Linked DNA regions of Homo sapiens: regions 2, 3, 4, 5, 6 and 7 are each linked to region 1. The links come from fine-mapping of genetic effects on plasma protein levels. Region 1 holds a variant in brackets. A gene starts in each other region. All regions are shown on their forward strands. Distances are between the middles of the regions.

The links. PIP is the chance, under the fine-mapping model, that this variant and not a neighbour inherited with it causes the effect. The UK Biobank Pharma Proteomics Project read protein levels with antibody pairs (Olink). The fine-mapping took linkage between variants from a reference panel, not from the people measured, so its PIPs are less certain.
Region 2: it holds the start of HSBP1, and the variant in region 1 is fine-mapped to the plasma level of the HSBP1 protein (UK Biobank, PIP 0.98).
Region 3: CDKN1A starts here. The variant in region 1 is fine-mapped to the plasma level of the CDKN1A protein (UK Biobank, PIP 0.95).
Region 4: it holds the start of CCN4, and the variant in region 1 is fine-mapped to the plasma level of the CCN4 protein (UK Biobank, PIP above 0.99).
Region 5: it holds the start of DYNLT1, and the variant in region 1 is fine-mapped to the plasma level of the DYNLT1 protein (UK Biobank, PIP above 0.99).
Region 6: it holds the start of CASP2, and the variant in region 1 is fine-mapped to the plasma level of the CASP2 protein (UK Biobank, PIP 0.96).
Region 7: TNFSF12 starts here. The variant in region 1 is fine-mapped to the plasma level of the TNFSF12 protein (UK Biobank, PIP 0.97).

The regions. Positions count from the first base shown.
Region 1 is chr7:101,854,502-101,858,590 of GRCh38, forward strand. The region is part of intron 1 of CUX1 (cut like homeobox 1); the gene reads left to right. Among named protein-coding and RNA genes, the nearest start is that of CUX1, 39 kb to the left of the region's middle. RefSeq lists an enhancer at 2,421-2,550. The variant G/A (reference allele first, on the strand shown) is at 2,149.
Region 2 is chr16:83,806,502-83,809,499 of GRCh38, forward strand. It overlaps HSBP1 (heat shock factor binding protein 1), which reads left to right and starts at 1,477. Exons shown (of 4, transcript NM_001537.4): 1 at 1,477-1,620; 2 at 2,179-2,245; 3 at 2,804-2,924. The coding sequence starts at 1,576. The coding sequence ends at 2,922. RefSeq lists an enhancer at 1,271-1,772 and silencers at 1,430-1,606, 1,624-1,913.
Region 3 is chr6:36,676,856-36,680,944 of GRCh38, forward strand. It overlaps CDKN1A (cyclin dependent kinase inhibitor 1A), which reads left to right and starts at 1,859. Exons shown (of 3, transcript NM_000389.5): 1 at 1,859-1,943. It overlaps DINOL (damage induced long noncoding RNA), which reads right to left and starts at 1,704. Exons shown (of 1, transcript NR_144384.1): 1 at 754-1,704. RefSeq lists enhancers at 1-759, 1,952-2,141, 2,153-2,740 and silencers at 1,672-1,901, 3,472-3,861.
Region 4 is chr8:133,189,343-133,193,431 of GRCh38, forward strand. CCN4 (cellular communication network factor 4) reads left to right here and starts at 1,697. Exons shown (of 5, transcript NM_003882.4): 1 at 1,697-1,871. The coding sequence starts at 1,803. RefSeq lists a silencer at 2,569-2,816.
Region 5 is chr6:158,642,756-158,646,844 of GRCh38, forward strand. It overlaps DYNLT1 (dynein light chain Tctex-type 1), which reads right to left and starts at 1,988. Exons shown (of 5, transcript NM_006519.4): 1 at 1,927-1,988. The coding sequence starts at 1,953. It also overlaps a transcript of SYTL3 not described here. RefSeq lists an enhancer at 1,359-2,302 and silencers at 1,426-1,755, 1,916-2,145.
Region 6 is chr7:143,286,260-143,290,259 of GRCh38, forward strand. It overlaps CASP2 (caspase 2), which reads left to right and starts at 2,092. Exons shown (of 11, transcript NM_032982.4): 1 at 2,092-2,270. The coding sequence starts at 2,197. It overlaps TMEM139 (transmembrane protein 139), which reads left to right. Exons shown (of 3, transcript NM_001282876.2): 3 at 165-1,789. The coding sequence ends at 570. It overlaps TMEM139-AS1 (TMEM139 antisense RNA 1), which reads right to left and starts at 75. Exons shown (of 3, transcript NR_133932.1): 1 at 1-75. RefSeq lists a silencer at 1,719-2,468.
Region 7 is chr17:7,546,999-7,551,087 of GRCh38, forward strand. TNFSF12 (TNF superfamily member 12) reads left to right here and starts at 2,060. Exons shown (of 7, transcript NM_003809.3): 1 at 2,060-2,314; 2 at 2,476-2,523; 3 at 3,122-3,197; 4 at 3,801-3,854; 5 at 3,945-3,980. The coding sequence starts at 2,156. TNFSF12-TNFSF13 (TNFSF12-TNFSF13 readthrough) reads left to right here and starts at 2,060. Exons shown (of 11, transcript NM_172089.4): 1 at 2,060-2,314; 2 at 2,476-2,523; 3 at 3,122-3,197; 4 at 3,801-3,854; 5 at 3,945-3,980. The coding sequence starts at 2,156. RefSeq lists silencers at 1,955-2,144, 2,175-2,254.

The sequences.
Region 1 (4,089 bases):
GGCGAGAACTTCCTAAGTTCTTAGTGTTTGGAAGGGACCCCCTCCATAAAGTGAGGTGCCTCTTGGCCACTGCTCAGCCAGTGGGGGCTGTTCCTAACAGTTGCCTCCTCCGATTGCTGGAGTAAGAAATGACACCCTGTCTCCCATTTCTGTGGCACCCCATTCTCAACAGTGATGGTTCTGCCTGTTTTTAGTCACACACACCTGCACACTTCAAAGGACTAAAAATGGACTCAGTTTTCTTTCTTTTTTTTTCTTTTTGAGATGAAGTCTCACTCTATCACCCAGGCTGGAGTGCAGTGGCATCATCTTGGCTCACTGCAACCTCCGCCTCCTGGGTTCAAGCGATTCTTGTGCCTCAGCCTCCCAAGTAGCTGGGACTACAGGCATGTGCCACCACACCCAGCTAATTTTGTATTTTTAGTAGAGGTGGGGTTTCACCAGGCTGGTCTCAAACTCCTGACCTCAAGTGATCCTCCCACCTCAGCCTCCCGAAGTGCTGGGATGACAGGTGTGAGCCACCTCGCCCGGCCTGGACTCAATTTGGATTGCAATGCCCCACAATGGTGACCTCCCTCTTCTCTGTTAATGCATCCTCTTCCCTCTTGCTTAAAAATTTCCCCAGTGCCGTGGCATCTTACCTCCTGCTGAAGTGTGTGCTGATGCTTTGCTGGGGGCTGGACCCCGTCCCTTGGAGCCTGGCCCAGGCCCTGCCTCCCAGTGAAACCCTGGCCGCCTTTCCAACCTCAGAGGCTCTATCTCCTCCCAAACCCTGTAGCCCTTCCAGTTGCTGGTCACTGACTTCCATTAATTGGCCCGGTGGCCTTGCCTGCCAGGGGGACCATGAGGTGAGGGGCCGTGTCCTCCGAGTGGTCTCTTTCTCCAGGGTGCTGGGGACCCAAGAAATGCCTGGTCGTTTCTCATAGGTTGATAAGGAAAATGAGGCCTAGGTAGGGACAGGCAGGATTTCACCTGAATTTACAAGATGATGCAATGGAAGAGTCTTCAGTATATTTTCACGTATTTTAGAATTGAGTTACAACATTCATTTTGGTACTTTCTCTGTGTTCTCCCCATGTGTTAAAAAGCAGCTTAAGGCCGGGCGCGGTGGCTCATGCCTGTAATCCCAGCACTTTGGGAGGTCAAGGCGGGTGGATCACGAGGTCAGGAATTCCAGACCAGCCTGGCCAACATGGTGAAACCCCGTCTCTACTAAAAATACAAAAATTAGCTGGGCGCAGTGGCAGACGCCTGTAATCCCAGCTACTCGGGAGGCTGAGGCAGGGGAATCGCTTGAACCCGAGAGGCGGAGGTTGCAGTGAGCCAAGATTGTGCCATTGCACTCCAGCCTGGGCGGTAGAAGGAGTTTCCAGCTCAAAAAAAAAAAAAAAAATGCAGCTTAAGTGCTGGTTTAGCGCCTGTAATCCCAGCACGTTGGGAGGCTGAGGCGGGAGGATCACTTGAGCCCAGGAGTTTGTGACTAGCCTGGGCAACATAGCAAGAACCCGTCTGTACAAAAAATAAGAAAAATTGGCCAGGTGTGGTGGCGTGCATCTGTAGTCTCAGCTCCTTGGGGGCTGAGGCTGAAGGATCGCTTGAGTCCAGCAGGAGGTCAAGGCTGCAGTGAGCTATGATCAAGCCATTGCACTCCAGTCTGGGTGACAGAGTGAGACCCTGTCTCAAAAAAAAAAAAAAAAAAAAAAAAGGAAACAAGAAAGAAAAAAGCAGCTAAATTCTGCTGGAAGTGTGCAGTAAAGCACAAGTTTTCAGCCATCAACGCAGGGAGCCGTTAATCACGACCCATAATAACCAGAATGTTATTCCACGGTTGCGGTTTGTTTATTTCATCAGAGTTGCGTCTTCACCTATTTCCCTCCCTACTCTTAATTGTTTATCCAAGTTAGTGTTTTCCATTCTTTCACTGAAGGCTCTAAAAATGGTCCCATCAAGAAGTCTGGTAGATAATGGAAGACGAAGTGGACTTTACAGAAAGATGAATTTTCTTCCCTAGAGCTGGAAAACCCTTCAGCGTGTCATGCGTTCCCCAGCCAGGACAGACAAAGCCACGCAATCTGTTTCCTGCAGGCCCAGAGGGGAAGGCTTCCTCCTTGTGGTTAGTGACTTCAAAAGCTGTCCTCACTAGAGCAA[G/A]TCCAACTCTTCCTCTAGTTCTGATGACTTCACGGCAGCCAACTGAGCTGCTGAACGCTGTTTTTTTCTACGCAGAAACCCTCCCGACTTTCACGAGGAGTTGACAGGTTTTCCTCTTCACTCGGGCTCCCTTGTCATCGTTAAACTGAAACTGCTTTCTTGTAGCCAAATTCTGTGGTCCCTTTTCGGCCTCGGCCTCCTTGACCTCTCTGTGTCCCCACCTTGGCTCTCCCACGCCTGCCAGCCGTACCACAGGCCCCGGGTGTGAACCCTCCCTCCGCGGTCATGCAGCCACGCCTCTGCTCAAGCTGTGCCTCCTCCTGGGCGCACCCTCCCTCTCCCATCCTTCAGCCTCTGAAGTCCTGCCCAGCTCCGGTTCCTGTTTCTGTTAGGACGAGGCCCTTCAGATCCTCTCCAGCAGGTGGACTCTGTCCTGCCCCGTACCACCCGCCGCGGGCCACTTTTGGGCCTGCGCCATGTTCCTGCCCTTACCCCGCCCGGTGTTAGCGTCACGTGGGTCCTGATGTCCTCCCTCTCCCAGGCCTCTGCTTATCTGATTGGGGGCTGTGCTTGACTCTGAAACCCGGGCACCTCCTACAGGGCATTTTGCCTGTCACAGGCCTAGCATTCAATACCTATCATATTTTTGAAATATCTGCAGAAATAAAAAGAAATAACTATTTTCTTCTTCAGGAGTTAAGATGCGTGGCCACCAAGTACTTTTCAATACATAAAATATGTTTTCAGCACAGAAAGGCCTTTCACCGCTCTTACTTACATAGTCTGCTTTTGGTATGATGGGGACGGATGAAAAATGAGGACTGTAGGCCTCCGAAGTCAGCTGTTTTGAATTAAAGCAGCGCACGCTTTGAGTCAGGTGAAGCGAGGATGGGGTTTCACCCGTTGAGGATGAATTTGCTGGGTTACTTTAAACTGGAACTGTTCTTTTCAGAAATGAGTGAAGCAGGAAGGGAAAGACGGAGCTTGTCTGGCTGGGTCGGATGACCCCCTTTGCCAGGCCGTCACCCCTCTAGGTTGAGTTAGCTCAGAATAACTTAGCTGTGCTATAGCTTTGCATAATTGCAAGGAGCTTTGTTTCGTTTTATTTTGCAGGGAATTTTTTTCCCCCCTTAGCTCTTCCTCCTGGTGTATTTGTAGAAATCAGCTTCATCATGGTCATTTAACAGTAAGGGCTGGGGGTGGTGGCTCACGCCTGTAATCCCAGCACTTTGGGAGGCCGAAGTGGGAGGATCACTTGAGGTCAGGAGTTCAAGACCAGCCTGGCCAACATGGTGAAACCCCGTCTCTACTAAAAATACAAAAATTAGCCGAATGTGGTGGCACGCACCTGTACTCCCAGCTCCTCGGGAGGCTGAGGCAGGAGAATCACTTGAACCCAGGAGGCGGAGGTTACAGTGAGCCAAGATGGTGCCACTGCACTCCAACCTGGGCAACAGAGCGAGACTCTGTCTCAAAAAAAGAGAAAACAGAACATACTATTTTTGTTGTTTCTGAGGAGTAGGGTTTCTTACCAGGGAACCTGCTTTAAAAAAATGCAGTATGTAGATTCCTTAAGAATAAAGTTAAGCAGCAGCTAACCAAGCACATGGCTAAAAACCCGGCCAAGAGCATTGTAGTATCTGGTTTTGGGGTTGGTGGTGGGGATCCCATTTTAGAGGCCGACTTTGGTTTGTGATGGTTAGGTTTTACTTTCTTAGGTCTCAGCTCACATGTCCCCTTCTCAGAGGAGCCATCCTCACCCATCCCTTCTTGGTCCCTCCCGCCTTCCCTGACTTTTTCTTCTTCAATGACTTATCTGCACATGATCCCCTACTTATAAAACCTGTGTCTTCCACTCCTCTCACCCGAAAGAATGTTTGAATTCTGAAAACAATGACTTTGTTCTTAGCACCCACAACAGCAAATGCTCAGTGAGCCCTA
Region 2 (2,998 bases), not on the chromosome of region 1:
TGTGAAGGGTGAGGGGCAAAGGTGTGAGTGAGGGGGAAGGGGTGGTAAAGGGAGTTGAAGTCTCATGCCTCAAGGCCAACTGGATTCCGGGTTTGTTAGAGACACTGGTGGGTCTGGCAGAGGCGTTTGAACAAGAGCAACTCCATCTCGAATAGGAGCTGGGTAAACTGAGGCTGAGAACTACTGGGCTGCATTCCCAGACAGTTAAAGGATTCTAAGTCACAGGATGGGATAGGAGGTCAGCACAAGGTACAGGTCATAAAGACCTTGCTGATAAAACAGCTTGCGGTAAAGAAGCCGGCCAAAACCCACCAAAACCAAGATGGCAATAAGAGTGAACCCTGCTTGTCTTCATTGCTACACTCCCATTACCGCTATGACAGTTTACAAATGCCATGGCAACGTCAAGAAGTTACGCTATATAGTCTAAAAAGGGGAGGCATGAATCACCCACCCCTGGTTTAGCATATAATCAAGAAATAACTATAAAAATGAGCAACCAGCAGCCCTCAGGGCTCTGTCTATGGAGTAACCATTCTTTTATTCCTTCATTTTCTTAAACTTGCTTTCACTTTACAGACTCGCCCTGAATTCTTTCTTGCATGAGATCCAAGAACCCCCTCTCTTGGGGTCTGGATCAGGACCCTTTCCCGTAACAGCTCTAACACCTTACAGCCTCTCCCTAGCTAAAGTCAAACTGGAGCTGACCCCTCACATAGCACAGTCCTTAAATGAGATGTGTGAAAGTTTCCAGAACATGCCAGGCCCGCAGTCAAGGACTCTCCTATCCCCTTGCCATGAGACCCAATCCTAAAGACCACCTGTGGGGTTGGAACTTGAGGTTCCAAATCAGCAGTGCCCACCTCCTTCAACACCCAAACCCACAGTCTAACCCTGATGCCGGAAGCCTTCCCCACTCAACAGCAGGCATTGCGTGGAGTGAAAGAAGCCAGGCATGATGGACAGCTTCCTGTCTGAATCCCCTCATATGAACCTGACGGGCACAATGAACCTACTGGGCTAAACTCCAGACGCTGGCCACCTTCATAGGGTGGAGATGACAGAACAGGACAGGAGCCATGGGGCTCCCGGGGCGGGTAGGGGTGGGTCATGTTCCTTGGCTTGGGGGCAGTTACAAGGGTACAGTGGGGCTTGTTGAAGGGCAAAAGTTCTGTAAGTTCGTCCCGACAGGCCAAAGAAACCCCAGAGCCGTCTTTCGACTGACTACAGCCTGGAAGAGAGGCCAAGACCACTCCCTGCCTCTATTGCTCCATTTCTGAGTTGGTCTCACTTTCCACCCCACTGACGGCGCGCTGCGTGAGGGGCGGGGCATAGAGGGAGGGGAGGGGCTATGCGAAAGAAGGCGGGGAGAGTGGGGTGGGGCCGCTCCTTGGAACGGAAGCGCGCGGCCTCGAGGCCCTTCCGGTGCGGGAGAAACTACTACTCCCATAATGCCCCGCGGTCCCGCGAGCTGCCAGTCTCGTCGCGAGAAGCAGCGGCCCGGGGCGACTGAGCGGACAAACGGAAGTGTAGGTTACGGTCTGAGACATCACCGCCAAGCTGGGCATCGGGGAGATGGCCGAGACTGACCCCAAGACCGTGCAGGACCTCACCTCGGTGGTAAGGGACGGCTGTGAGGGCCGGAGGCCGCGGCCTTCCCGGGCGGCGCCGGGCCAAGCCCTGCTGGACAGAGGCGCGCCCACCGCGGCCGCGCGTGGCGTCTGCCGAGGCCCCGTTTCTGGAAGCGTCTCTGGCCGAGGCTCCCGGCCACCTTGACCCCCGGGGCGCTCGGTGCGGGCCAGTCTCCCCGCGGGCGCCCCCAAGCCCGACCCCTTCCAGTAGCCCCATTCATCTGTCGCGAACGCCCTCCGGGTCCCTCCCGCCTACCTCTGACACCCTCCCCGCCCTTCAACTCCTCACACACCCCCGGGTGCCCCAGCCCGGCAGAAACAACCTAAAGACCCTGAGCTTTGAGTCGCAGCGGCCTCCCCAGCCCAGCAGTCTAATTGGACAGGTTGGAAAACGGAAGCCCAGAGAAGGAAGATCTTGCTGAAGGCCGCACAGCTGTCCAGAGGCAGAAATGGGGCTGGAACCCCGGGACCAGGGCTTGCGTCCTGATCCCAGGAAGTTGTCTCAGGATCGATGTGGACCGTGTTTGTTTGTTTCGGTTTTTCTTAGGTGCAGACACTCCTGCAGCAGATGCAAGATAAATTTCAGACCATGTCTGACCAGATCATTGGGAGAAATATCCTTTTTATCTGCAGTCGGCCTCCTGTGGGCCTTTGGAGCCTATTTGCCGGGCAGTGGTGGGGATAAATGAGTAGTTTTCAGGCTAGCTTCAGCCATTCACTTGTAGAATTTGAGCTTGGATTGTACTGTGTTTCTGAGAAGGACTGCGCCGAGAGCTAGGGGCAAAGCTGAGTTAGACTCCTGGCTCAAGGAGCATACGTCTACCAATCCTAATAGCTGGTGTGGTGGACCATGCACTGTGAACTAAGCGCTTTTGTGTGTGTCTTTTGATGCTCAGCATGACCTTATGAGTGGGTTGTAGTGTTATCATCTTTAGCAAATGAATAAATTGAGGTTTAGGGGTTCCATCACTAGTAAGGGTCAGGGCTGGAATCCGATGCGGGGTAGCCATGCCCCACAGTCCTGTACTCTTACCCACCAGCGTGTAACAGTGTCGAAAGAAAATTGGAAGACCAGTTTCCCTAAAGTCGTTGTGTTTAAGGCTGTAGTCTGCAGGGACGGGAGGAAAAAGGCTCAATGAGATGTTGGCACGCGTTGTCTTTAACTTCAGCACTTGATGATATGAGTAGTCGCATTGATGATCTGGAAAAGAATATCGCGGACCTCATGACACAGGCTGGGGTGGAAGAACTGGAAAGTGAAAACAAGATACCTGCCACGCAAAAGAGTTGAAGGTGAGGAAGGGGGCAATTTTTTTTTTCTTTTCTTTTCTTTTTTTTTTTTTTTTTTTTTTTGACACGGAGTTTTG
Region 3 (4,089 bases), not on the chromosome of region 1:
TGGTGAGCTAGAAGTTATAAAAAAAATTCTTTCCCAAAAACAACAACAAAAAGAATTATTTCATTGTGAAGCTCAGTACCACAAAAATTTAAATAATTCATTACAAGCCTTTATTAAAAAAAATTTTCTCCCCAAAGTAAACAGACAGACAATGTCTAGTCTATTTGAAATGCCTGAAAGCAGAGGGGCTTCAAGGCAGTGGGAGAAGGTGCCTGTCCTCTGCTGGACATTTGACAACCAGCCCTTTGGATGGTTTGGATGTATAGGAGCGAAGGTGCAGACAGCAGTGGGGCTTAGAGTGGGGTCCTGAGGCTGTGCCGTGGCCTTTCTGGGGTTTAGCCACAATCCTGGCCTGACTCCAGGGCGAGGCAGGCCAAGGGGGTCTGCTACTGTGTCCTCCCACCCCTACCTGGGCTCCCATCCCCACAGCAGAGGAGAAAGAAGCCTGTCCTCCCCGAGGTCAGCTGCGTTAGAGGAAGAAGACTGGGCATGTCTGGGCAGAGATTTCCAGACTCTGAGCAGCCTGAGATGTCAGTAATTGTAGCTGCTCCAAGCCTGGGTTCTGTTTTTTAGTGGGATTTCTGTTCAGATGAACAATCCATCCTCTGCAATTTTTTAAAAGCAAAACTGCAAATGTTTCAGGCACAGAAAGGAGGCAAAGGTGAAGTCCAGGGGAGGTCAGGGGTGTGAGGTAGATGGGAGCGGATAGACACATCACTCATTTCTGTGTCTGTCAGAAGAACCAGTAGACACTTCCAGAATTGTCCTTTATTTATGTCATCTCCATAAACCATCTGCAAATGAGGGTTATTTGGCATTTTTGTCATTTTGGAGCCACAGAAATAAAGGATGACAAGCAGAGAGCCCCGGGCAGGAGGCAAAAGTCCTGTGTTCCAACTATAGTCATTTCTTTGCTGCATGATCTGAGTTAGGTCACCAGACTTCTCTGAGCCCCAGTTTCCCCAGCAGTGTATACGGGCTATGTGGGGAGTATTCAGGAGACAGACAACTCACTCGTCAAATCCTCCCCTTCCTGGCCAACAAAGCTGCTGCAACCACAGGGATTTCTTCTGTTCAGGTGAGTGTAGGGTGTAGGGAGATTGGTTCAATGTCCAATTCTTCTGTTTCCCTGGAGATCAGGTTGCCCTTTTTTGGTAGTCTCTCCAATTCCCTCCTTCCCGGAAGCATGTGACAATCAACAACTTTGTATACTTAAGTTCAGTGGACCTCAATTTCCTCATCTGTGAAATAAACGGGACTGAAAAATCATTCTGGCCTCAAGATGCTTTGTTGGGGTGTCTAGGTGCTCCAGGTGCTTCTGGGAGAGGTGACCTAGTGAGGGATCAGTGGGAATAGAGGTGATATTGTGGGGCTTTTCTGGAAATTGCAGAGAGGTGCATCGTTTTTATAATTTATGAATTTTTATGTATTAATGTCATCCTCCTGATCTTTTCAGCTGCATTGGGTAAATCCTTGCCTGCCAGAGTGGGTCAGCGGTGAGCCAGAAAGGGGGCTCATTCTAACAGTGCTGTGTCCTCCTGGAGAGTGCCAACTCATTCTCCAAGTAAAAAAAGCCAGATTTGTGGCTCACTTCGTGGGGAAATGTGTCCAGCGCACCAACGCAGGCGAGGGACTGGGGGAGGAGGGAAGTGCCCTCCTGCAGCACGCGAGGTTCCGGGACCGGCTGGCCTGCTGGAACTCGGCCAGGCTCAGCTGGCTCGGCGCTGGGCAGCCAGGAGCCTGGGCCCCGGGGAGGGCGGTCCCGGGCGGCGCGGTGGGCCGAGCGCGGGTCCCGCCTCCTTGAGGCGGGCCCGGGCGGGGCGGTTGTATATCAGGGCCGCGCTGAGCTGCGCCAGCTGAGGTGTGAGCAGCTGCCGAAGTCAGTTCCTTGTGGAGCCGGAGCTGGGCGCGGATTCGCCGAGGCACCGAGGCACTCAGAGGAGGTGAGAGAGCGGCGGCAGACAACAGGGGACCCCGGGCCGGCGGCCCAGAGCCGAGCCAAGCGTGCCCGCGTGTGTCCCTGCGTGTCCGCGAGGATGCGTGTTCGCGGGTGTGTGCTGCGTTCACAGGTGTTTCTGCGGCAGGTGAATGACGGGCGTGGGTCGGTGCGCGCTCGGCTTGCGCACACGGTGTCTCTAAGTGCGCGGGTGACGAGAGTCGGGATGTGCCGGAGACCCCGGGGCGGAGAGCGGGATTACAAGTACAGGAATCCCTGGTCACGCTCCCCGCCCCTGGAAACCCAGCTGGGGCGAGGGAGGGCGTGGACGGGACCGTTCTGGGAGCTCGCCTTTGGCTGCGGTTGGCTCCAGGCCCCAGGCGCAGTTTGCTCGCGGCGTGGGGATGAAGTCCGTGTCCCTGGAGGGGCCCAGGAAGGGCGAGGAAAGCGGAGTGGAGTAAGTTCGTCTAGGATCGGTCCCGGGTGGCTCTGGGATCCAATCTGCGCCGCCCTGGCCCAGGTCCCAGGTTCAGGTCCTTTACGCCACTGTGTCCACCACCTGGCTGAGCGCTGAGGTCAGCGCGGGCTGTTTCCTGGCCCTTGGGAATGTGCCAGGACCCGTCCCCTAAGGACTAGCGAGGAGGTGACTCACTGTGACAAGGAGACCCCAGGGAACGGACTGTATGAGGTCAGAACCCCGCCCGGGATGGGGTACAGCGGGACTCCAGAAGCCCTCTCCCCTGCCCCTTCGCGGTCTCCGTCCTCCCATCGGCACAGTGACCTATTTGGCTGGAACAGTTTGTTCCCAAGGAAGCCGGGCACTGGAGGTCCGGGACACCGCGTCGGGTCCCCGCTCCGCGGCGCGCTGTAGGGGTCGGGGAGTCACGGCCCTGCTCTGGGCGGGCTCTAACCAGCCTGTCAGTCGGGGAAGGGCAAGGGTCTCCTCTACCTCTTTCCCACCGCGGCCGGGAGAATCGCGGCCCAGCCTGTCCTCGGGTCGGGGCGCTGGACTCCGGGGCGGGAGCGGAGCCCACGCCTGGATGGGAGGCGGGGAGGGTTCATGTCTTTGAGGGGTGGGGGGTCTGGGGGGCACGACGCTGCTCAGGGCCTCTATCAGCTGCCTCGGGGGCTCAGGGCTTCCCGACCTAGCCCAGATTCCCTCTCCGAAAGCTACAGGGCTGAGCGGAGCAGGGGGGCGAGTCGCCCCCTGGGGCGCCGCCGCCTGGCGCGGACCACAGCGCGTCCTCTCCGTCCCAAACCCCTGGGGGACACTTGCGCCCTCTTCGTGAGGAAAAGCATCTTGGAGCTGGGTTAGGAACTTGGGGCGCCCAGGCAGCTTCCCCTCTCCTTGCCTCCCTCCACGTCGCGTTTCTGGGAGGACTTGCGAGCGGTTTTGTTTTCGTTGCTCCCGTCTATTTTTATTTTCCAGGGATCTGACTCATCCCGTGCTTTGGGCGTGGAGATAAGGTGGAGGGGCCGGCTCCCGGCGCGCGCGCGCGTGCGTGTCTGCGCGGGCGTGTGTGTGTGTGTGTGTGTGTGTGTGTGTGTGTGTGTCTGTGTCAGAGACGGCACAAGAGCGCGCGGTTTCCCAACAGCGGCGGGAGTTTCGGAAGCCTGGCCGGCTCAGCGTGACGTGTTCGCGGCCCCCCGGTCCCCTCCCATTCTCCCCCTCCCCACCCCAGGGTGACGCGCAGCCGGAGTGGAAGCAGTTTTGGCGGGCGAGCAGCGCCTTGCAGGAAACTGACTCATCACTACTCCCTCCAGCGGTCCGAGGCTCTGCCCACGCACCTCCCACTCCGCGCGTGATTTCCTGGAGGCCGGCGCCCCCTCCCGGCCCTGGCGGGAATAGCACACAGGCTTTCCCGCGGAGTGGGGCTGGCCGGCGCGAACCGCCGCGGCTACTCCTGGGCTCATCCGAGATCAACCCCTATGCCATTACCACCCCTTCAAAGGAGCACTCCTTAGGTTCAACAGTATTCACTGAGCTCTTACTGGAAATTAAAATATGGCTGAAGTCTAAGGCAGGAAGGCCAATAAAGGAGGCTATTTTTAATTGTTTCTAAAACAAGGGTTTGCGTTTCTGAGTTTTCTTTGGGCTGAAAGTTATTATGAGCATGAGAGCAGATTTTGATGGGGGAGGAGAGGCCTATGAG
Region 4 (4,089 bases), not on the chromosome of region 1:
AGAAGACCCTAGCAGGTTTCCCTTATGTCTCATTGGCCGGAATTGGATCAGAGGCACATCCCCAGGTCAGTAAATGGAGAAATCATGAGCACCATCTCTTCTGGGGTCATGTCTATAGGGATCATAAACCTCTTCCATGAACACAAGCCTGCTGCTACCTCCAAGCAGCCACACATGCTTCAGCATCCCTTGTTAATAAGCTACAGGAAAAGAGAAGAGAAGGAGTAACTGTCATTTAAACCTCAGTGTCGAGTATTCCTACTGAGACCTGGAGATGCTGAGAACTTGCCAAGGTGTGAGAGGAGTTGCAAGGAGGCCATTGTGGTTGGGCATGGTGCACGAAAGGGAGAGAGGAAGAAGTGTACAGGGAGCTGGCTGGCCCAGGGGCCACGCCAGGACTGGGGACTCTGTGCTGTGTGATGGGCAGGCTTTGGACAGTTGTATCCAGAAGATGATCTATACATGACGCTAGTTCAAGGATTGCTCTGAGATGTGTGGATGGTAGAAGGTGGGCAGGGAGGCTGGGTATCAGTCAGGAGGCTGTGGCAGCGGTCCCCATGGGGAGCACAGGGCTGGACTAGGACAGCCCATAGAAGACATCCCATCTCCTTTCTTGCCCAAGGAAGAGACTCAGTGGCAGCAGTGCAATAAGGGTACAGGCCAGGAAACCCAACCCCCCAGGGATAGCAAGCATCCAGAGACACGTGGGGACAGCTCCAGCACCAAACGGCTTCTGACCAATGAGCAGAGACGGCAAACAGCAAATGCGTTACCGTGGCTTTCACGTGTCATGAAGGTGATGCTGTAACCTGAGCCTCAGAGCTCATTTTATTTGTGAATTCCTATCATCTCTAGATGGGTGGACTGAAAGCCACCTCTTTCGCTTGCAGCTAGGTAGAGGGGAGTGCAAGAGGGCAAATGAAAACCAGAAGTAGGGTTGGGCGCAATGCCTCACGCCTGTAATCCCAGCACTTTGGGAGGCTGATGTGGGCGGATTACCTGAGGTCAGGAGTTTGAGACCAGCCTGGCCAACATGGTGAAACCTCGTCTCTACTAAAAATACAAAAATCAGCTGGGTGTGGTGGCACATGCCTGTAATCTCAGCTATTCAGGAGGCTGAGGCAGGAGAATTGCTTGAGCCTGGGAGACAGAGGTTGCAGTGAGCAGAGATCGCGCCACTGCACTCCAGCCTGGCCGACAGAGCGAGACTCTGTCTCAAAAAAAAAAAAAAAAAAAAAAAAAAAGAAAAGAAAAGAAAAAGAAAAAGAAAAGGAAAAAGAAAACCAGAAGTAGGAGCAGCCTGAAGAAATGACAGGGAGTTGATTTCCCACTGGGAGCCCTCTCAAAGCCCACACACCCGCCTGCCTGGGGTAACAGTATCTCCTCGGACATCCTGCACCCTCCCATGCTCCCCCCTCCCTACAGTAGTGAAAGACCTAGGCAGGATGACCCCAGCTCCTCTGTGAGAATTTCACACCCTAGTGTGAAGTCATAGCCTTGTAACTTTCCCTTTAAGAACTGTCAGAGCTGGGGAGGCTGGCCAAGCTCAGGCTGGAGGTGGGGACAGAGGGAAGAAAGAAAAAAAAAAAAGAGAGAGAGGCAGGAAAAGTTTTTTCAGAGGAAAATGCAGGGTTTGTCCTTCACCCTGACGTCAGATCTTGCTTTAATAAAACCCCCCAAGGGCTGCGGAAGAGGCATATCTGGTGCTCCTGATGGGCCGGCCAGTCTGGGCCCAGCTCCCCCGAGAGGTGGTCGGATCCTCTGGGCTGCTCGGTCGATGCCTGTGCCACTGACGTCCAGGCATGAGGTGGTTCCTGCCCTGGACGCTGGCAGCAGTGACAGCAGCAGCCGCCAGCACCGTCCTGGCCACGGTGAGTCCTGCCTGGAGGGGCTCAGAGGGAGACCCAGCTCCCTTCTCTACTGGGTCCTGCTACATGGGGGCTGGTGGGCAGGATGAAAAGGGCCAGGAAGGTTTGGGGCTGGAAGGTGGCCACTTACAGGGCAAGGACAGAGCCCAGGGTGAGGAGTCAGCTGCCCAGGTTGGCTGAAGCTGGCAGGGTGAGGAGGACGGTGCGACACTTGGGGAAACAAACTGCACAGGTCCAGCCTGCCCTCTCTCCCCACCTGAAACAGTGCAGAAAGAACGGGGCCCTCAGCAGAACTGGGAGTCAGGGGCCCGGGCTCCAGACCCGTCTTCGCCTAACCTGGCTGTGTGGCCTCGGGTGGGTCACTCACCCTCCAGGAGCAGCGTAAAGCGACGAAGTTGTTAGGTGACTTCTAGAGTCTCTGAGTTTGAAAACTCCAAGACTCCAAGCATTGGAGATGCTGCGAAGATGGGAGATGGAAAAAGCCAAAAAAAATTGGAAAGAAAAATGCCAGCTTTCAACAAAAGCTCCTTATTGAGCAAACAGTGCTCAGGGTGATGTCTAACCCCAACTGCTGTCACCTCCGGTCTGCACAGCCCTCTGCAGTCTGCAGAGTGTCCATACTTGGGTCCTGCCTATGAAGCCTGCTGTTCCAGGGTGGGGGTGATGTGGGCACCCCAGAGTCTCTCTCTCTTCCACCTGCACCCCAGGGTACACCAAGGGGAAGGGACAAAGGTCTGCACCTCCAAAAGCCAGGGGAGTCACATATGTGACCGTGTAGAGCCAGCCTGCTAGGGCCAGGCATGGTGAGGAAAAGGCAGAGGCAGGCAGTGCAAGGAGGGCAGGAGGTGGGTACCTGGCAGCTTCTGAGCCCCAGATTCCACAGCCCAGGGCAGGACCTGCTCCTGGCAGAACAGCCTAGAGACGGAGGGGTGATGGCAAAAGAGTGTTTATCCCCAAATGACACTGATGGCTTCCTTGGGGGTTAAGAAGCCCCCTTCACAGATAAGGAAACCGTGTGTTGGGGTTAAACCACTTGCCAGAATCAGACTCTAGGTCTGCTTCAGCCAGAACTGAGGCCGAGAGCCGACAGCAAACTGAGACCTGGGAAATAGGAATTCCTCTCAATGCCTCGGTGTGTGTAATGATGGCGGGGAGTGGGTCTGTTTCATCTTGGTTAAATCCTCACGCCTGGCATGGTGCCTGACTATAGTTGGTTCAGAACCACCTTACCAGAAAGTTATCAGCTCCATTTCACAAATGAAAGAAATGGAAAGTGAGAGCAAGTAAAGGACTTGCCCAGGAGCTCCTCATTAATAAGTGGCCAGGGCCCAAACTTAGATCTTCTGATGCCAATTTCTAACCATTCCTACTTAGGGGAAGCTGACTGTGTCCTACAGGAGTGCCCAGAAGGAGCTAAGTCGCTGTTTATTTCGGCTCTGGGTATGGCTGCGCCTTTATTTGGGTATAGCTTTGCAGGTTGCTATGTCTGGGAGGGCAGGGAGAGGATGGAGAAAAGGTGAGCGTTTGAGAGAAGCCAAAGTCTGAGTGGGCAGAGGAGGCGAGAGGTTTAAGCATGAGTCCAAGTACTCTGGAGCCCCAGTCAGCTCCCAGAACAGCCGGTGCTGAGGAGGAGTGAAGGACAGAGCCGAGGACTCAGCCAGAGGAGACCAGCAAAGGAGCAGAGCGTGTGGAGGGACCCAGGGAGCAGGTTGGAGGGAAGGCTCCCGGGACCAGCACAAGGTACCTCTCTTCTAGGCAGCCCCTGCCTGGGGAACCCAGACCACCCACCCCATGCTTGTTTCATGATTTAGATGCTTCTGGGACAGAGGTGTGCACGGCACTGGAGTTCTCAGGATGTCCTGAAAGCCCCGCCCCCTGTGTGGGCTGTGAGACTGATAGAAACGAGCTGGACTCCATTTGGAAACCAGCCTTGTTTCATAGCCAAATTCCATACATGGTCATCCTCCCGAATTAATATGCAAAGGGAGCACATGTCCAACCAGGGTCTCAGTGAGATCTTAATGGAAAAAATTGTTGTAAATGTTCATATTGAAGAAAATGCATGTGAGAATTGCCAAGAAAACTTTGAGGAAGTAGAGTTACAAGGGGGACTTCTCTGGGAGATATGAAAGCACTCTGTAAAGATTCTGCAGTGGAAGGAGGAAGATGGCAGCCCAGAAGGAGATCAGCCAAGGAGGAAGGCACTGGAGTGATCTCAGGA
Region 5 (4,089 bases), not on the chromosome of region 1:
TGTATCACCTCCCATATGGTTACAGTACGAAAAAGGTTGAGGGACATTTTAAAGAATTTTTAGTGGAAAGCAGAGTTGTATTGAATCCAGTGGATAGTTTTAACGTCTCCAAGAAAGATGAATGGTGAGTTGAGAGAATAGTTACAAAGGCCCAGGCATCTACACGAAGTTAGAAGAGATGCAGAAAAGGCTGCTAAGAGGCTGGTGGGAGGACCAGAACGGGCCATTCAGTAAATACCTAAGACATGCCTACTACAAGACAGCCATGGTCTCCACCTCCCAGGGCCTCCATCCCAGGTAGAACACTCATCACTCTGTCCAGCCCCTTCATTTTACACATATGCGATTGAGATCTCGAATAATGAAGCCACTTAGCCACCTTATTTGTGGGAGTCAGAATCGGACTGCAGTATTAAGCGCTTTCCTTTACAAAGCGATTTCTTTTTTAGAAGTTTTACTCGATATTACTGTAATACAAGACATTTTCCAATATTATATTAGTAACAGTTTAAGGGGAAAGGCTTTTTTCTTTGCCAACTGCTCCTGAACCAGCTCTTCTCGTCATTATTCACTTGGTTGCCATCAGCATTCAAACACTGATTATGCCACTGTCACAGGAAGTGTGTGCTAGTTAGGAAATCAGATCAAAACTGAAACTCTAGAATCAGTCCTTAAGTTTTAGTTTTATTTTCCCTGAAAACATTCCTCCTTAAACGAAATTTTTTTCTTTTTTTTTGGTTTTTGAGACGGAGTTTCGCTCTTGTTGCCCAGGCTGGAGTGCAATGGCGCGATCTTGGCTCACGGCAACCTCTGCCTCCCAGGTTCAAGGGATTCTCCTGCCTCGGCCTCCCGAATAGCTGGGATTACAGGCATGCGCCACCACGCCCGGCTAATTTTGTATTTTTAAAAGAGACGGGGTTTCTCCATGTTGGTCAGGCTGCTCTCGAACTCCTGACCTCAGGTGATCCGCCCGCCTAGGCCTCCCAAAGTGCTGGGATTACAGGCGTGAGCCACTGCGCCCAGCCACTAAATTTCATAAATGGTAAGATATCCAACCTTACCAAATGTATCTATAGTTTATATTTTTGACAGGCTGCATAATAAATCCATAGGGCTCTATCTGAATTTCAACAAGGATTATTCAGTAAGAAGAAAATGAGTGTTGTATCTCAGCTGCGCCCATCAGCTCTATTCCCCGAATGACCGTGAGCTTGAAGGAAAGCCATTTAACGCACACGGTGCCGATGGGTGTCTTCTGCTTGGCGACATCGTGGGCTTTATCCTACTTCCTCAAGGAGGCATAAAAGATGATTTTTTCCCCACAACAATGAGCTTTCTTACAGACATATTAAACGGAAATGAAATGTGCTACTCATTCCCAGCGTTGCAGAACCAGGTGAGGCCCGAGACAAAGGCGCGGGATGGCCGGGACGCCAGCCCGGGGCGGAGGGGCTGGCGGCGGGAGCGTCACCCGCACCTCCGCGGGGAGACGTCCAAGCCTCGGCGCTCCCAGCCCGGCCGCCGCGCCCCGCTCCAGGCTGGGGCTGGGGCTGGGGTCAGCCCCGCAGAGCAAGGGGCGGTGATGTCATCCTCTCGGCGAGCTTGGCTGCGGGCCGGAGGCGAGGCCCTGCGGGAAGGTTTCTCGGCACCGCTCACCGGGGCGCTCTCTCCGAGTCACGCCCGGTGCCTCCCCGCGCGGGAAGAAGCTCAATCCCCTTCCCGCCCCCCGCGCCGGGGAAACGGCGGCAATGTCCGGGCAGAATGGGGCCGGGCGGAGCGCCGGCGACCGGGAAGCTCAGGCCGTGGGCTGCCGAGACTGGCCTAGCTGAAGGAGGTGGGCAGCCAGGCCTTTCCGGGCAGGACCGCGTGTCCTTCCGCGGCCAGGGCTCTAGGCCTCCACCCTTCCGTCGCCGACCCGGCGGTTACCTCCTCCGCAGCCTGGTAGTCTTCCATCTTTCCTCCGGCGCGTCCCCTCCGGCTCCCTGAGTGGCGCGGACTGCGCAGGCGCACTCAGGCCCCGCCCCGGACCTGCCACGCCCCTCTCCTCTCGCGCCTGCCTCGCCCATGCCCAGCTCCCGGGCCCCGCCCTTCGCTGCCCGGACCCTCAGTGACCCCATCCCTGGGCGGGGCCCGTGGGTGGACCCTGAATTCGCCTCTCCTCCTGTCCTCTGGGAGGTGGTAGTTTCCATGGGAATCCGTGAGGGTAGCCGGGCAGCTCCCTAAACCTTAGCAACAGAAACAAAACACACGTACAAAAGGCAGTCCTGGAGGGGAAGCGTGGTCCCGGCCCCTCCTCCGGTTTGTACTGTGTGGATTGACGCGGACGTTCAAACCCGCTCGGACACCTGGCAACAAACTCGAAAGTGACTGCTGAAGGCAGTGCGCCCGGTGAGACGTTGTTGCAGTTCCCTTGGGGACTGGGATTGGCATGCTTTAGCTATCTGAACGAAACTTCCCTTTGGGGAGTTAAGTTTTCCAGGTAAATGAGAATTTTTCCTTTAAGCACCATTAAAAAAAAACATTTTGGGTGGAAAATTTTGTAAAATGTGGCACACTTCCTGACTACCTTAACCATAGTGAACTAGACAGACTTTATTTGTATGTGGGTTCTTTATGGAAATTAGGAATTGCACTGGGCTCTGGTAAACTGCCCTCCACGGAAAGCTGGGGCATATGCATCTATTGGCAGGTATTCTGAGGCTCCGAGTTTTGATTTTGGCGTTTGCTTTTTCTGGTTTCGTCATGCACTTGAATTCAGGTTGCTGGAACCCACTTCCCATTCCCCAAGAAAGAGCTGACTGCAAGGGTCCCAGGGATTTGGTAGACCTAAACTTCAAATCCCACATCTAATCCATCAACAACCCTTGTTATTTCTACCCCATATGCTCGGGACCCCAGTTAAAGATTGATATCTCTCATCTGGATTATGACCATCGGACTGTAACCTGGTCGGTCTATCAGGGTCTTATTAGAGCCCTTCAAGAGGAACCTAACCCAACGACTCCTCCCTCCCCTCACCCATTCTGCCCTGCCATAAGTCAATAGTTACTAAGTTGTCAGACTATAGACTAATCTTAGTGATCTTTGGATGACTAAACTTTTAACATATCTTAGCTCAAAATCTCCTACAGAGAGCCATTCTGTGACCACGGCATCTAAGGTAGCCGACCTCCTCATCCTCCACCCCTGCATCCTGTACATTTTCCTCATAGCACTTCTCTCAGTTTGCAAGAACGTATTTATGGTTGCTTGTTGATGGTGTGTCTCCATTTAGAAACTAAGTACCATGCAGGAAGGATCTGTTTTATTCACTAATGTATCCCCTTCCTTCCACATTGTGCCTGGCACATAATAGCTACACAATTAACATTTATTTATTTATTTATTTAGAGACAGGGTGTCATTCTGTTGCCCGGGCTGGAATGCAGTGGTGTGATCGGAGATTTTGAGCTAAGATGTGTTGAAGTTTAGTCATCCAAAGACCACTAAGAGCTTGAACTCCTGGGCTCAAGGTATTCTCCTGCCTTAGCCTCCTGAGCAGCTGGGATTCCAGGCACTAGCCACCACACCCACCTATTTTTTTAATATGTCTTTTGTAGAGATGGGATCTCACTGTGTTGCCCAGGCAGGTCTCAAACTCCCGGGCTTAAGGGATCCTCCAGCCTCAGCCTCCCAAAGTGCTGGGATTATAGCTGTGAGCCACCATGCCCGGCCTAAAATTTATTGCATGAATCATTTCCCTCATGGGTGTTAGCTTTGCCTCAGACCCAAATGGAGAGAACTGGGGAGTGGAGGAAGATGCAACTACCTGCCTCCTTGAGGGAAACAGGGCTGGCGAGAGGAGGGCAGAGCCCTGACTGACACAAGGCTGCTTGGCCCTGGGTGTTCGGCCTGAGCGAGGAGACTTGCTGGGCAGGCTGGTTGCTTTACCACACCTGGTCTTCCTCTCCTTGGATTCTGAACTTTATCTACCTTTTGAATTCCTTTCTTATTACCTGGCTTCAACTCCCCTGTCCTGGTGTTTCAGTCGTGCGCCTCAGTCCACATGTGATTCTGATGCTGACATTGCTTTGCCTGCCTGCCCTTCTC
Region 6 (4,000 bases), 41 Mb after region 1:
CCCTGTAGTCTCTGAGGCAGAGAGTCTCTGGTTTCCTGTCATTGGCATCAGCGGGAGGAGGGGTCAGAGGCCAACAGAGGATCTTTTGCCCACAGCAGACAAAAAAAAGGGAAAAAGGGCTTCTTTCATGGAAGCCACCAATGGCCTTATTTCTCTTCCCTCAGGGACAATGAAGCCTTTGAAGTGCCAGTCTATGAAGAGGCCGTGGTGGGACTAGAATCCCAGTGCCGCCCCCAAGAGTTGGACCAACCACCCCCCTACAGCACTGTTGTGATACCCCCAGCACCTGAGGAGGAACAACCTAGCCATCCAGAGGGGTCCAGGAGAGCCAAACTGGAACAGAGGCGAATGGCCTCAGAGGGGTCCATGGCCCAGGAAGGAAGCCCTGGAAGAGCTCCAATCAACCTTCGGCTTCGGGGACCACGGGCTGTGTCCACTGCTCCTGATCTGCAGAGCTTGGCGGCAGTCCCCACATTAGAGCCTCTGACTCCACCCCCTGCCTATGATGTCTGCTTTGGTCACCCTGATGATGATAGTGTTTTTTATGAGGACAACTGGGCACCCCCTTAAATGACTCTCCCAAGATTTCTCTTCTCTCCACACCAGACCTCGTTCATTTGACTAACATTTTCCAGCGCCTACTATGTGTCAGAAACAAGTGTTTCTGCCTGGACATCATAAATGGGGACTTGGACCCTGAGGAGAGTCAGGCCACGGTAAGCCCTTCCCAGCTGAGATATGGGTGGCATAATTTGAGTCTTCTGGCAACATTTGGTGACCTACCCCATATCCAATATTTCCAGCGTTAGATTGAGGATGAGGTAGGGAGGTGATCCAGAGAAGGCGGAGAAGGAAGAAGTAACCTCTGAGTGGCGGCTATTGCTTCTGTTCCAGGTGCTGTTCGAGCTGTTAGAACCCTTAGGCTTGACAGCTTTGTGAGTTATTATTGAAAAATGAGGATTCCAAGAGTCAGAGGAGTTTGATAATGTGCACGAGGGCACACTGCTAGTAAATAACATTAAAATAACTGGAATGAACTCCTGATCCCAAAGCCTATTGTGTTTTCAACACAAGGTAATAGGAAGCCAAGCAACTTGCATGTCTCCCAATCCCTGTCTAGGGACAGCTGCTGGTGCAGGATGGAAGACTTCCTATAAACAGAATGGGCGACCAATTGTGTCTACAGAGGGGGTGGGCTGAGCATGGGCACGCATGTCCCCAGCCTCCTGGACGAGCAAAGTCAGTCAAAGCGCTGGTGATCCCTGCTCCGCGTGCGTAGCAGTGTCTGTGCCTCTCCTGCCCAGGGGCTAGAGAGCAGTCTCCAGTGCAGGGTCCCCATCCTATCTGAAAACAGTGGAGTCAGTGACCCCAGGTGGAGGGACTTCCAGTTTTAACAATGGGTTGGTATGAAGGCCAGAAGGAGTGAAACATGTGAACTTTCTGGCGAGGAGACTCCCTCTTGAATCATCCATATGTAGCCCCGGGGTCACTTGCGAAGAGTCTCTAACAGCTTCTGCCTCACTCCTAAGCTCTGACCGCTAGGCTTTCACCCCAGCCGCCGGTCCTGATTCCTGAGATCCCAATATTGAGCACCAGGTTTCCTGGAATTGTGTGCTGCGGCTGTGATGTAGGTTTCGGTCGCTGGAAGCTGCTAAACCATAGCTGACGCCCCCTCCTAAGCCAGCCTTCCTTCCCCGCGCGGGCATCTGTCCAGGGCCTTGTCGCGCTCTCAGTCTCCTTCGCAGCCTGGCCCCAACCGTTCAACTTCAATAAAGCAAAACTCCAGCCACGCCCGTCTCCGTGAAGTTATCGCCATAGGCCGGCCAGGGGGCGCGAGAGGCACCGGGGTGATTTCCGCGGGAATCGATAACCAATCGGATTCCCAGGCCGAACGGAGCACACCCGCCCGCCCTCGCTCTTTCCCCGCCCTTTGCCCCGCCCCGCTCCTTCCCCTCCTTTTGTCTGTCCGCCGAGCACCCCACTTCACCCCATTGGACCGCGCGGCCGCCGCTAGAGCTCTGCGCCTGCGCACGCACCGGGCCGGGGACTGGGTGGCCTGGTGTGTGGGCGCGGCAGGGCGCAGGCGCAGGCGCAGTGTGCGTCCGCGTCTGAGGGGAGGGATGTGGGGGAAGCGACGGCCCCCGGTTTGTTTGGGCTGTGGGCGGTGCGCAGCGGAGAGCCCGGGAAAAGCGGGAAATGGCGGCGCCGAGCGCGGGGTCTTGGTCCACCTTCCAGCACAAGGAGCTGATGGCCGCTGACAGGGGACGCAGGTAAGTAGGGAACGGTCTTAGGGCTCCTTAGGGGAGCCCAGGGAAGGGGAGCGTGGCCCCCAGGCGTGCGGCCCTGCAGCCCCCTCCCCTCGGAGCCCCGGAAAGCAGCCGTGTCCGCGCTTCCTGCCAAGGGTGGGACGCCCGCCCGAGCCGCTCCGAGCCTGACTCCGCGCAAGGGCCCGCGGGCGGACCTCTTGGCCTTGTCTCTCGTGGGAAAAGACTGCCCCAGCCTCCCTTTGTTCAACCCACGAGGGTTCTAAAGGGGAGGTCTTTGCAGTCCTGCCCGCTCTTGGGTTCTCTTGAAGATTCTTCATCCTTTCCTCTGGCTCCCTTATGAGGGAAACTATAAAAAGACCATACTCTGTCTCCTTAAAAATCGACGAGACCTTCTGCAGACCTCGGTGCTCTGCCTGATGTGCATTTGATTTGTATCGATTGTATCATGATCTGCATGGCTTTGCATAGAATGACCAGATTTTCAAAGAAGTCAATACAGGGTTTGGAAATTGAGTACTTTTGGCAGAACAAGGGGGTTCCTGTGGCTCCGAGTGTCCATGCCTCTGCCCCGGTCATTCCATTTCATGGCAGTCATCACCCAGGAGAACATTGTAATGCCTCCTGCTCGAGACTGAAGATTAAGGTCTTCGCAAAGGGAACCTGCAGAAGGACACAGAATTAAGACGTAGGAACTCCGTGGTGCCCTTCGCCCCTCCTCCCCTTCCAGTTGTGTCCTGAAATTCTAAATGATTGGAAACTTTTATAATGTTCACGTTTAAGACTCTCATACTACAGAGTAGAGGAAGGAGCGGGTGTGCAGAGGGGGTGATGCTTCAGATTAAAACTAAAGAGTTGATTGAAAATTCAAGTCTGGAACTCGAGAGAGTTAAGAACTATAAGTCAGTAAGTTGCAAGTATGGGTGAGATTGTCTAGGGAAAGGCTCTTTGAAGGGGCGTCCCTAATGGAATATCAATATTAAGGGCAGGCCAAAGGCCCTCTAAAGAAAACAGGAACTGGGTAGGCAGAGAGAAGACTCCCAAAGAATGCTGTCATGGAAACCAGAGGAAGAGAACGATTTAAGGAGCGAATACTACTGGTAAACTAATGGAAGAAATCTGCTGCACCACTGGTTAGTATCCCAGCTGCAGTGTTATATGTGATCGTTATTACTGCTTTGACGTATTCGAAAGTGATTCATTCTTAAATAGGTTTTTTTATTTGTATAGCTCTTTTTCTTGTAGCCAGTTTTTCCTGAAAGTCTTGGGTAATGGAAATATTACAGTAAAAAGAAGAAAAAATGGAGTTTCAGACTCATTTTTCCAAACCTCAGATTCATTGGCTGCTTCCAACCCACTTCATCTGTTTTAGGATCCCACCTGCTATCTTAGTTCTCCCAGTTCTTCCAGGACCCAGCTCTTCCCTCTTCTAACTATAAATCTCTCACCCAATAGCATCTGCAAGCCAAGTGCATCCATTCCATAGATGTGTGGTATTTCACTGACTCTAAGATACACATTTTTTCCCTCCCTTTTTTTTTTTTTTTTTTTTTTTGGACGGAGTCTTTGCTGTGTCACCCAGGCTGGAGTGCAGTGGAATGATCTCAGCTCACTGCAACCTCCATCTCCAAGGTTCAAGCGATTCTCCTGTCTCAGCCTCCCGAGTAGCTAGGACTACAGGCATGCAGCACCACACTCGGCTAATTTTTTGTATTTTTAGTAGAGACAGGGTTTCA
Region 7 (4,089 bases), not on the chromosome of region 1:
TTTTTTGAGACAGGGTCTTCCTCTGCAGCCCAAGCTGGAGTTCAGTGCCCAGATCATAGCTCATGGCAACCTGGAATTCCTGGGCTCAAGCGATCCTCCTGCCTCAGTTTCCCCAGTAGCTGGGACTACAGGTGCACACCATGATGCCCAGCCTGTTTTGTTGCTTTTTTTTTTTTTTTTTTTTTTTTTTTTGAGATGGAGTCTTGCTCTGTCGCCCAGGCTGGAGTGCAGTCATGCGATCTCGGCTCATTGCAACCTCCACCTCCCGGGTTCAAGCAATTCTCTGCCTCAGCCTCCCGAGTAGCTGAGATTACAGGTGCCCGCCACCGTGCCCAGCTAATTTTTGTTTTTTTAGTAGAGACAGGGTTTCACCATCTTGGCCAGGCTAGTCTTGAACTCCTGACCTTGTGATCCACCGACCTTGGCCTCCCAAAGTGCTGGGATTACAGGCGTGAGCCACCACAACTGGCCCCAGCTGTTTCTTATTTACATTGTGATTTCAGTTTTGAAAATTTTCTGGAGATTCTAACTGCTTTTCTTTCTTTGCATACTCTTTTTTTTTTTTTTTTTTTTGACAGGGTCTTACTCTGTTGCTCGTGTTGGAATGCAGTGGTGTGATCACAGCTCACTGCAGCCTCAACCTCCCAGGCTCAGGTGATCCTCCCATCTCAACCTCCTGAGTAGCTGGGACTACAGGCATGCACCACCATGCCCAGCTCTATGGATGCTTTTTCTTGACTCTCTTTAAGTATATTAGGTAGTACTCTTTGTATCCTGAATTATCTCTGTTTCCTCCAATGTCAAATTTTGTTTGTTAATTTTGGTCTTTCTTTCTTTTTTTTTTTTTTTGAGATAGGGTCTTGCTGTGTTGCCCAGGCTGGAGTGTGGTGGCGTGATCTCAGCTCTCTGCAACCTCTGTCTCCTGGGTTCAAGCAATTCTCTGCCTCAGCTTCCCGAGTAGCTGGGAACTACAGGCGCCTGCCACCACGTCCGGCTAATTTTTTTGTATTTTTATTAGAGACAGGGTTTCACCATCTTGGCCAGGCAGGTCTCGATCTCCTGACCTCGTGATCCACCCGCCTCAGCCTCCCAAAGTGCTGCGATTACAGGCGTGAACCATCGCGCCCAGCCAATTTTGGTCCTTCCTTCCTTCCTTCCTTCCTTCCTTCCTTCCTTCCTTCCTTCCCTCCTTCCCTCCCTCCCTCCCTCCCTCCTTTCTTTCTTTCTTCCTTTCTTTCTTTCTTTTTGAGACAAGGTCTGTTGCCCAGGCTGGAGTGTAGTGGTGCAATCACAGCTCACTGCAGCCTCAAACTCCTGGGCTCAAACAATCCTCCTACCTCGGCCTCCTGAGTAGCTGGGACTACAGGCGTGGGCTAATTTTTTAAAACTTTTCTGTAGAGATGGGGTCTTGCTCTTGCCCAGGCTGATCTTGAACTCCTGGCCCCCAGCCTTGGCCTTCTGGGATTACAGGCGTAAGCCACCTGCCGGACCAATTTTGGTGTTTCTTTTGCATGCTGCTGGTCCTCCTCAGATGCTTGGCAATCATTGGTAATGATGGGCTTCAGAACGTGCTACCGGCACAGTGAGTGTTTTAAGCTGAAGGAATTTGAGAAAACCGCAGAAGCCGAAGGATCTTTCTTACCTTCTCCTGCCCTTCTTCCCTGAACCAGGTCATACAACCTGGAACTCCCTGCCCTTTTCCTGAAGAAGCAAATAACAGCCTCCTGCGAGAGGCGCCCTCCCTGCACCTGGGGGAAAGGAGGGTCCTTATCTCTGAAGACACAGGGACACAGAAGAATCTGAACCAACAGGCCTTCCTGAGTTCCCCACCTCCCCGCAGGAGGTGCCCGCACACGCATAGCCCCGTCGCTCCCGCGGCCGCACGCAACGGACCTCGCCCTGGTGGTGCACGCCCGGGCTGGGCGCTCAGAGGTCGGGTGGGCGCCCACTCCGTTCGCTGCGCGCACAGCGCCCGGCGAGAGGCTCGGAGTTTGATCACACACAGCGTCCGGCTTCCTGTCCCCAGCGCCCCCTCCCGCCCCGTTTCCCTTGCCCCTCCCTCTCCCCGGCCCGATCCGCCCGCCGGCTCCCCCTCCCCCGATCCCTCGGGTCCCGGGATGGGGGGGCGGTGAGGCAGGCACAGCCCCCCGCCCCCATGGCCGCCCGTCGGAGCCAGAGGCGGAGGGGGCGCCGGGGGGAGCCGGGCACCGCCCTGCTGGTCCCGCTCGCGCTGGGCCTGGGCCTGGCGCTGGCCTGCCTCGGCCTCCTGCTGGCCGTGGTCAGTTTGGGGAGCCGGGCATCGCTGTCCGCCCAGGTGAGGCCCCGCTGCGCACCCCTTCTTGGGCACATCAGGAGCTGAGACTGCAGAGGGGCCGCTGGGGGCCGCGTGGGCTGAAGGCAAGGGGAAGGGAGGATGGGTGGAGGGTGAGATGTCAGGTGGAGCGGCACAGGGTGACGCTCCCTCCTTCCCAGCAGGAGCCTGCCCAGGAGGAGCTGGTGGCAGAGGAGGACCAGGACCCGTCGGTGAGTGGGCGTGGGCGCGGTCTGCAGGCTGCTGGGGCATGGGAAGTGTGCACAGCCGAGGCTGCAGGTGTGTGCAGCTGTGCCAGCCGTACTCGAGGTGTGTGCAGGGTGTGTGTGAACACAGTGCGTGCATGGGTGCGTGTCTGCAGGGGTGTGTGTGCGTGGTGACAACTCTGTGTGAGGGGTTTGTGCTGGGGTTGTGCCACCTGAGTCTGAGGTGTTTATTGGCTGGGGGTGACGTGGTTGTATAAGATATGTGAGTCTGCGTGGAAGAGGGGTGCGGTTGTGTACAGGGTGTGTATCCTCTGTGCGTGGTGACTGGGTGCGGGCATGTGTGCAATGTGCCAATTGAATGCAGGGTCTGCGTTGGTTGTGTGTGTGGGTGGGAAAGTGTAGCTGGTCTAGAGGAAAGGGTGAGGACTGGGGCCTGACTCCCAGCTTCACCTTTGCCCGGGGCCCCAGCTGTAGTTGGCTGAGGGGCTTAATCTGTCCCTGACTTCTGTGTCTATTGCTGGCTGGTGGCTCTCCTGACAGGCCCCGTATGTCTCACTTTATATCTCTGGGAGTCTGTGGTTGAACCCTGCCCTAATTCCCCTAGGAACTGAATCCCCAGACAGAAGAAAGCCAGGATCCTGCGCCTTTCCTGAACCGACTAGTTCGGCCTCGCAGAAGTGGTGAGCATCCCTCTATCCCAACCTCAGGAAGCGGGCAGAGCAAAAACCATTATCCACAGGGAGAAACTGAGGCACGGAGGGTGAAAGGAGTTCAGAGTCATGCAGCTAACCAGCCAAGACTCAAACCTAGGGATTCTCGCCCTCCTCTGAAGCTCCTTCTGTCATATGGATGTGCTCCTTCAGACCCTACCCCAAACAGGAAGGCAGGGTGGCCATGAGTTAGAAGAACTACTGGGATCCTGATGGAGACTAGGCCTGGCAGTCAGAGGCCTGGGCCCCGGTAGGCAAAGAGACTTAGGAATGGGATGATGGGGTGGCCGGATGACCACGTGTCCAAGTCGGCATGCAGTTGTCCTGGCCCCCACCTGTTATCTCGGTGTGATTAATAGCAGCTTCCCGTTTTGCTCTCAGCAGTATCCCAGTGTGGATGACAAATTATAGTCACTCTACTTACTGAGGAAGATGAGGCCTGAGATTCTAAGGCCAGGAGTCTGGACAAGAATAAGGATGCCAGGGTTCCTGAGAGGGGAATGGGGCTGGGAGAGTTGCTCTGGGACCCCCACTAGGGCCCGCTTTGCTCATCTGTCTTTCCTTGATCCTCAGCACCTAAAGGCCGGAAAACACGGGCTCGAAGAGCGATCGCAGCCCATTATGAAGGTGGGTGATGGGTGAGCCATACCCAGGAGGAGAGGGGCAGGTGGCAGAGGGTCAGGGCAGGTCTCACCAGCCTTTTCCTGTACTTTACAGTTCATCCACGACCTGGACAGGACGGAGCGCAGGCAGGTGAGACCCCATCCCCCGACACAGCACTGGCCTCCTGGGAAAAGGGCCCTTGAAAACCTTTGACCTCCCACTCCCTTCCCGGCCATCAGTCTCAGAACCACAGAAGCCA